Regions from separate parts of the Homo sapiens genome. Here region 2 is linked to region 1. The links come from fine-mapping of genetic effects on gene expression. A gene starts in region 1. The other region holds a variant in brackets. All regions are shown on one strand. Distances are between the middles of the regions.

What was found. PIP is the estimated chance that this variant, and not a neighbour inherited with it, causes the effect.
Region 2: its variant is fine-mapped to the expression of EYA2 in thyroid (GTEx, PIP 0.98).

What each region holds. Positions count from the first base shown.
Region 1 is chr20:46,893,281-46,896,188 of GRCh38, reverse strand. It overlaps EYA2 (EYA transcriptional coactivator and phosphatase 2), which reads right to left and starts at 1,346. Exons shown (of 16, transcript NM_005244.5): 1 at 1,202-1,346.
Region 2 is chr20:46,964,016-46,966,923 of GRCh38, reverse strand. All of the region lies in intron 1 of EYA2 (EYA transcriptional coactivator and phosphatase 2), which reads right to left. Among named protein-coding and RNA genes, the nearest start is that of EYA2-AS1, 64 kb to the right of the region's middle. The variant C/T (reference allele first, on the strand shown) is at 1,168.

The DNA.
Region 1 (2,908 bases):
AATTCTTACATGATGTTTGTAAATCATCCTCCTGCCCCTCCGCCCTCGCTAACAGCTAGATTCCAATGTTCAGCTCTTCCACTGCACCTCGTAATTAAAAGGTACCTCTTACCGGGGTGATTTATACCTCCACGTTATATTTTAAAAAGTAATTGAAGATTACATAGCATTTCGGGGAAGGGGAAAGAAAAGAAAAGGGTATCCATAAAAACGCAGCATCGGTCTTGCTTTTTAAAAAGAATTCAGACCGCGGCAGGGTGCACGCTGTCAACTCTCAGCCTCGGCTTCGGGGAAGCAGGAACCTCGCACTGCAAAAGGCGCTTCCAGTTCAACAGCTGAGAAAAGCGCACTGAGTCTTTTGCGATAGGAGTACGTTCACCAGTCACGCTTTCCTAGTATTCCTTGAGCTTATAAACTATTTATTGCTGGGGGGGAGGCAGGCAGGAATATATTGAAGGAGCCTGGGCCAGCACGGCCGTTTAACCTCCAGACTTCATGACTAAAAAACAATTCCATTTCCCACTTTCTCCCATTACAACGAAATCCTTGCCGCCTTCTAAACACCCTTCGGATGTAAACTTTTCTAAGTTTCAACTCTACCCGCAGCAGGCGCCAGGATTCCCTGCCCCGGTTCAAAGCCCCAGACCTGAACCAGAGCGGGCCGAGCGCAAACGGACTTTTGAAAAGAAATATATCAATAGCTAGAAGGCAAAGTCTCAGCGGGCCGTTCCAGCCCCAAGCCGGGATTCCAGCGGTTGGCTCTGCTTCTTGGTTATCCCATAAACACTACCTGAGGGCTTGAGTTTGCGGACTGGGGGAGCGCCCCTTATCGCGAACCGCCGGGACCATAATCGAACAAAACGCCAAGGACCCAGCCGCGTCTACACCGCCTGCGCGCCATGCACTTGTCCCGCGCGCGGGAGAGCAAACTTCAGGGTCGTTGCCCCAAAGCGCATGGGGAAACTGGGGCCCCGAGCCTGGGAGAGCCTTTCCAGAGGGGGGCTCTGCTGCTGTCCCCTCTGCCCTTGTGCCTTCCTGGCCCTGGGAGGCCCGTGCGCCCCAGAACGTCCCGACAGCTGCGGAGGCCCCGCTTGGCGAGTGCCAGAAAGAGGCGCAGGGCGAGGGGGTCCCGGTGAACAACTCCCCCCGCCCGGCGAATCCCGGCGGGCGGCCTGGGGTGGGCGCCGCTGGCGGTACTCACCGCGCGCAGTGGAGAGGGCGCCCCGACGCGGTGCGGGCGGGCGGGCGGGCCGGTGCGGGTCCGACGAGGCCGGGCTGACTGCGGCGGGCACGTTGCTGTCTCTGCCGTTGCCGCTGCCTCCGCCTCCTGGGCTGCCGCGGCTGCTGCCTGCGCCGGGAGGACCGGCCCCTTCTCCTCCCTGGGCCGGGCCCTCCCTCTGCCCCCGCCCGGGTCCCCGCGCCGCTGCGTGGGCGCGTGGGGGCGCCGAGGCGCGACGCTGGGCTACGCGGGCGCACACACCCGGCGGCTGGACGCAGGGCGCGGGGCTCTGGCCCAGCACGTGCCGCCGCGCCGCTTCCTGAGCCTGCAGCCGAGCAGAGCGCGCTCACTCTCGCCGGTCCTGGAGGCCAGGGCCCAGCCTCCTCCCCACCCACCGACACCCCGCACCTCCTCCCTCCCCGGGGCAGCACATCCTCCCTGCAACCCAGGCATGACCCCTGTGAAAGGAACGACGGCTCGGAGAGGACCTCAATAGTGACACTAACATTCGTTCACTCAACCACCCATTCATTCATTCAAAATATATTGAGCATCTACTGTGCCAGGTACCACTCCTGAGAGACTCAGCTAGAACAAGACAGACTAGTTTTCTGCCCTCCCGGAACTTGCATTCACATGGAGAGGCAAACCATAAACAAATAACCAAGTAAAGAAGCAAGACAGTTTCAGAAAGTTAGAGTTACAGGGAGAAAAATAATATATGTATCTGCTGTTGGGGAGTGGAGGAGAGGCGGTAATTTTAGCTAGAGCAGTCAGGGAAGACCTCTCTGAGGAGGTGACATCTGAATTATGAGGAAGTGCCATTGGTGTGGTATTTAGGTGAGAACGGTTCAGGGGTCTCCCCTATGTTTCACCCATTTTACAGCTAAGGAAACTGAGGTCTCAAGAGCTTAACTGGTTTAGTGAAAGTGAGAGGTATAGCCCCCTCCACCTACATGCCCAAATCAAGGCACCCCACTTACTCCATCCTCTCATAGCCACCCCCCTTTTAGTCTCCCTGGCAATGAACTGTGTTAATTGGAGTCTATGCAGCCTTTCCTAGCCCGTCACCCACTCTCTAATGTCTATGAATTCCACCGTGGGACACCCAGGATGCTTCAATCCAAAAGCAATATCAACCACTGTCATTTCTTAAGTGCAGTAAAAGACAGGGCACCCAGGTGAATTTGAATTTCAGAGAAACGAGGAATCAGTTGCAGTATATGTCTTATGCGATTGGTTGTACGTACTTATATTTAAAAAGTATTTCTTTTGTCTCCGAAATTCCAATGTAACCGGGGGTCCTATATTTTTATTTGCAACCTTAAGCTCATCCAATGCCCAACTCTTCCTTATCTCATGTAATCCCCAAGAGAGACCCCAAGGTAGCTGCTGTCAGCACACTCATTTCACAAATGAGCAGGTCCAAGCTCAAAGAAGGCAGAAAGTGGCTGAGCCAGGAATGAAATTCAGGCCTGGCTGACTCCAAAGCCGTTGCTCTTGAGCCGTAACAGTCTTCAATTCCAGTTGTAAGTTTACAGGAGCTGATGAAGGTTAAGTTCTTGGGCCCCTGACTTGCTTGGACCCCTTTCTAAGGGGACTTAGAAAAGTGTTCAGATGGTGGCTTGTTGATGTAAAGTTTACAAAAGTCCTTTGCTTTGGACATTTGGCTGCAGGCCGTAGACACCG
Region 2 (2,908 bases), 71 kb before region 1:
GTAAAATAATGCATTAGTAATCTTAAAAGTATGGATGATGTATTGAAATGATAATATTTTTTGACATCTTGAGTTAAATAAAATGTACTGTTTCACAGTTTTTTTTTTTGAGATGGAGTCTCGCTCTGTCGCCCAGGCTGGAGTGCAGTGGCACAATATGATACCGACTCACTGCAAGGTCCGCCTCCCAGGTTGACACCATTCTCCTGCCTCAGCCTCCTAAGTAGCTGGGACTACAGGCACCCACCACCATGCCCGGCTAATTTTTTTTGTATTTTGAGTAGAGACAGGGTTTCACCGTGTTAGCCAGGACGGTCTCGATGTCCTGACCTCGTGATCCGCCCACCTCGGCCTCCCAAAGTACTGGGATTACAGGTGTGAGCCACCGCGCCAGGCCTGCTGTTTTACATATTTTTTTTAACAAGGCTACTAGAAAATTTGCAGTTACATATGTGGCTCACACTGGTAAAGCATGTTATATTTTTCTCGGACAGTGTTGCTGGAGACCTTAACATGCTCCATGAGAACAGAGGCTGTAGCTAGATTGTTCCTGCTCTATCCCTGTGCTTAGAACAGCACCTGCCACAGAATATGTGATGAATAGTATTTTGCTGAATTAACAAATGAATGAACGGTATGCTGGGCACAGTGGCTCATCCCTGTAATCCCAGCACTTTGGGATGCGGAGGCGGCAGGATCACGTGAACCCAGGAGCTCAAGGCTATGATGCCACCACTGCACTCCAGCCTGAGTAACAGAGGGATATCCCATCCCAAAAAAGAAAAAGAAAAAAAGACTGTAAGAGGTTGCCTCGTTCATATCCTGGTTGTTAAGAACAGTTTATACTCATGCTGCATTTTAAAGTTCTCCAAAGAATCACCAGGTGCTACATTCATGGAATTTCAAGTTTTCACTTGCCAGTCCCAGCCGCCATGGGCACCAGCTTTCTCTCCAGACACTGGATTCCGTGAACACAGCCAGCTCTGCTGCCCTCTTAGCTGACTCCACACCCCAAGAGAGAAGACAGGGCTTGAGCGAAGCATCCGCGACAGCCAGGTAGCCAGAAGGTCCCACAAAAGTCAACAGACGTGGGCTCAGGAAGTTTGTCAACCTTGACCAGACAAACACATTCTAAAGGGCCACTCGTACGTGCAGGGAACAGCCCGG[C/T]GGACGGGAGCCAAGGCAAGCAAGGCTGCGCCAACCCCAGAGGAGTCAGGAGGCCAAGACTCAGAGCGTCTAGGAGGCTGAACAAGCGTGGGCCTGAACCAACCAGGTGGGGTCACCTGTCTCCAACCTACGCCCAGGCAAACAGTTCTGCACGCTGGGAAGAAGGCACGCTTAGGTCAGACTCAGGAGCTATGAGGCGTGAGGCCCAGGCCCTGGCACCTGGTGGCCACTGCGGGGCTGGGACCTTCCAGCTCTCTCAGAGGCTTCCCTCCAACCCCCCACCTTTGCCCAAGGCTGTGGATGGGTCTCTGTGCCCTGGGGTGCCTGGTGACTCTGGCGGCCTGCCTGGGCTGGAAGCTCTAACTTGGGAACACTGCTGGTGGGCAGACATGGAGAGAAGGGATTAAGGATTCGAAGAGCCAGAGAAAAACCTAACTTGACTGTTTAAAGCCCTTTTTACACTGGGCTGTAGTTGCTCAGTAGCAAGCTGGCTGTGGGTTTGAACTCCAGCCTTGGCCCTTGTATTCCTGTATGACCTTGAGCAGTGGGATCAATGGCTCATGCTTAGGGTTCACCAAGGTCGGGCTCAGTTCTAAGTACTGGACATAGAGCACCTAATTACAAGAGCCAGCGCTGGTACCACACTCCTGCGATGCAGGCAGTTAAGTGTCAGAGGCGGATTCGAACCCTGGCAGTTCCACCGTCTGTTCACAAGTTACGTGAATTTGAATCCAACTCTACAAGTTGGGCGTCTAGTGGCACAACTCACTCTCATTTATCTAGCACGTCCTAAGCTCCAGGCCCTTACTGCCCTGAATGTATTACTCACTGACCGTCCCTTACTAAATCCTCACGAGAGTACTCAGTGTATTATCCCCTAAATTCAAACCCAAGCAGCTTGGCTCCCACATGACTGCAGCAGATGCTGGGGCACACAGACTCTAGAGCCGCACTGCCCGGCTGGAGTGCCAGCTACACAGCTTGATGATCGCTGTGACCTTGGGCAAGTAACATCCTTTCTTGGTCTCAGTTTCCTCATCTGTGAAACGGGAATCCTAACAGTACTTACCAATGGGGTTGTTCTGAGGGCATTACATGAGTTTTGAAAGCATTTAGCAGAGTGTCTGGCAAACAGGAAGTGTTAAAATCAGAGTCTATTATCTGCCATGCCTGGGATACCTGCGTCACAGGACAGGTGACAAGTAGGTGGTCATCCCAGGGAGGGGTTGGAGGCAAAGCTTGAAATGTTGCCTTTCAACCTCCCAGGATCCTCCCATGTTGCAGACACGTGCATCCCTTCAACAGCCACCTGCGGACCTCTGTGTGCCAGGTGCTACTTGGTTCTCTTTGTCACACCCCAGTGACTGCCTCCAACAGCCTGCCAAGACGCCTCCCAGCCTCCACTGCCCACCTCCTCCAAATCTGTTCTCCACACTCCTGGAGTGAGATTTTTAAACATACATCTGACCTTGTCATGCCCCCCACTAAAACCTCTTTAATTGCTCCCCACTGCCCCTTGGGCTAAATTCCAAACTTTCACAGGGACTAAAAACAGTGGCTTTCGAATTCTTCAACCAAGACTCACAGTAAGAAACCTGTTTTGCAATGCAGTGCAGTGTACACCTTTATAAAACTTCAAATAAAAGTTTCAAAAAACCACACTGACCTCATGTGCAACACACTCTGGTATTTTCGATTCTATTACTTTTCTTCCTGCGATGCTGGCTGTGGCTCACCAAAT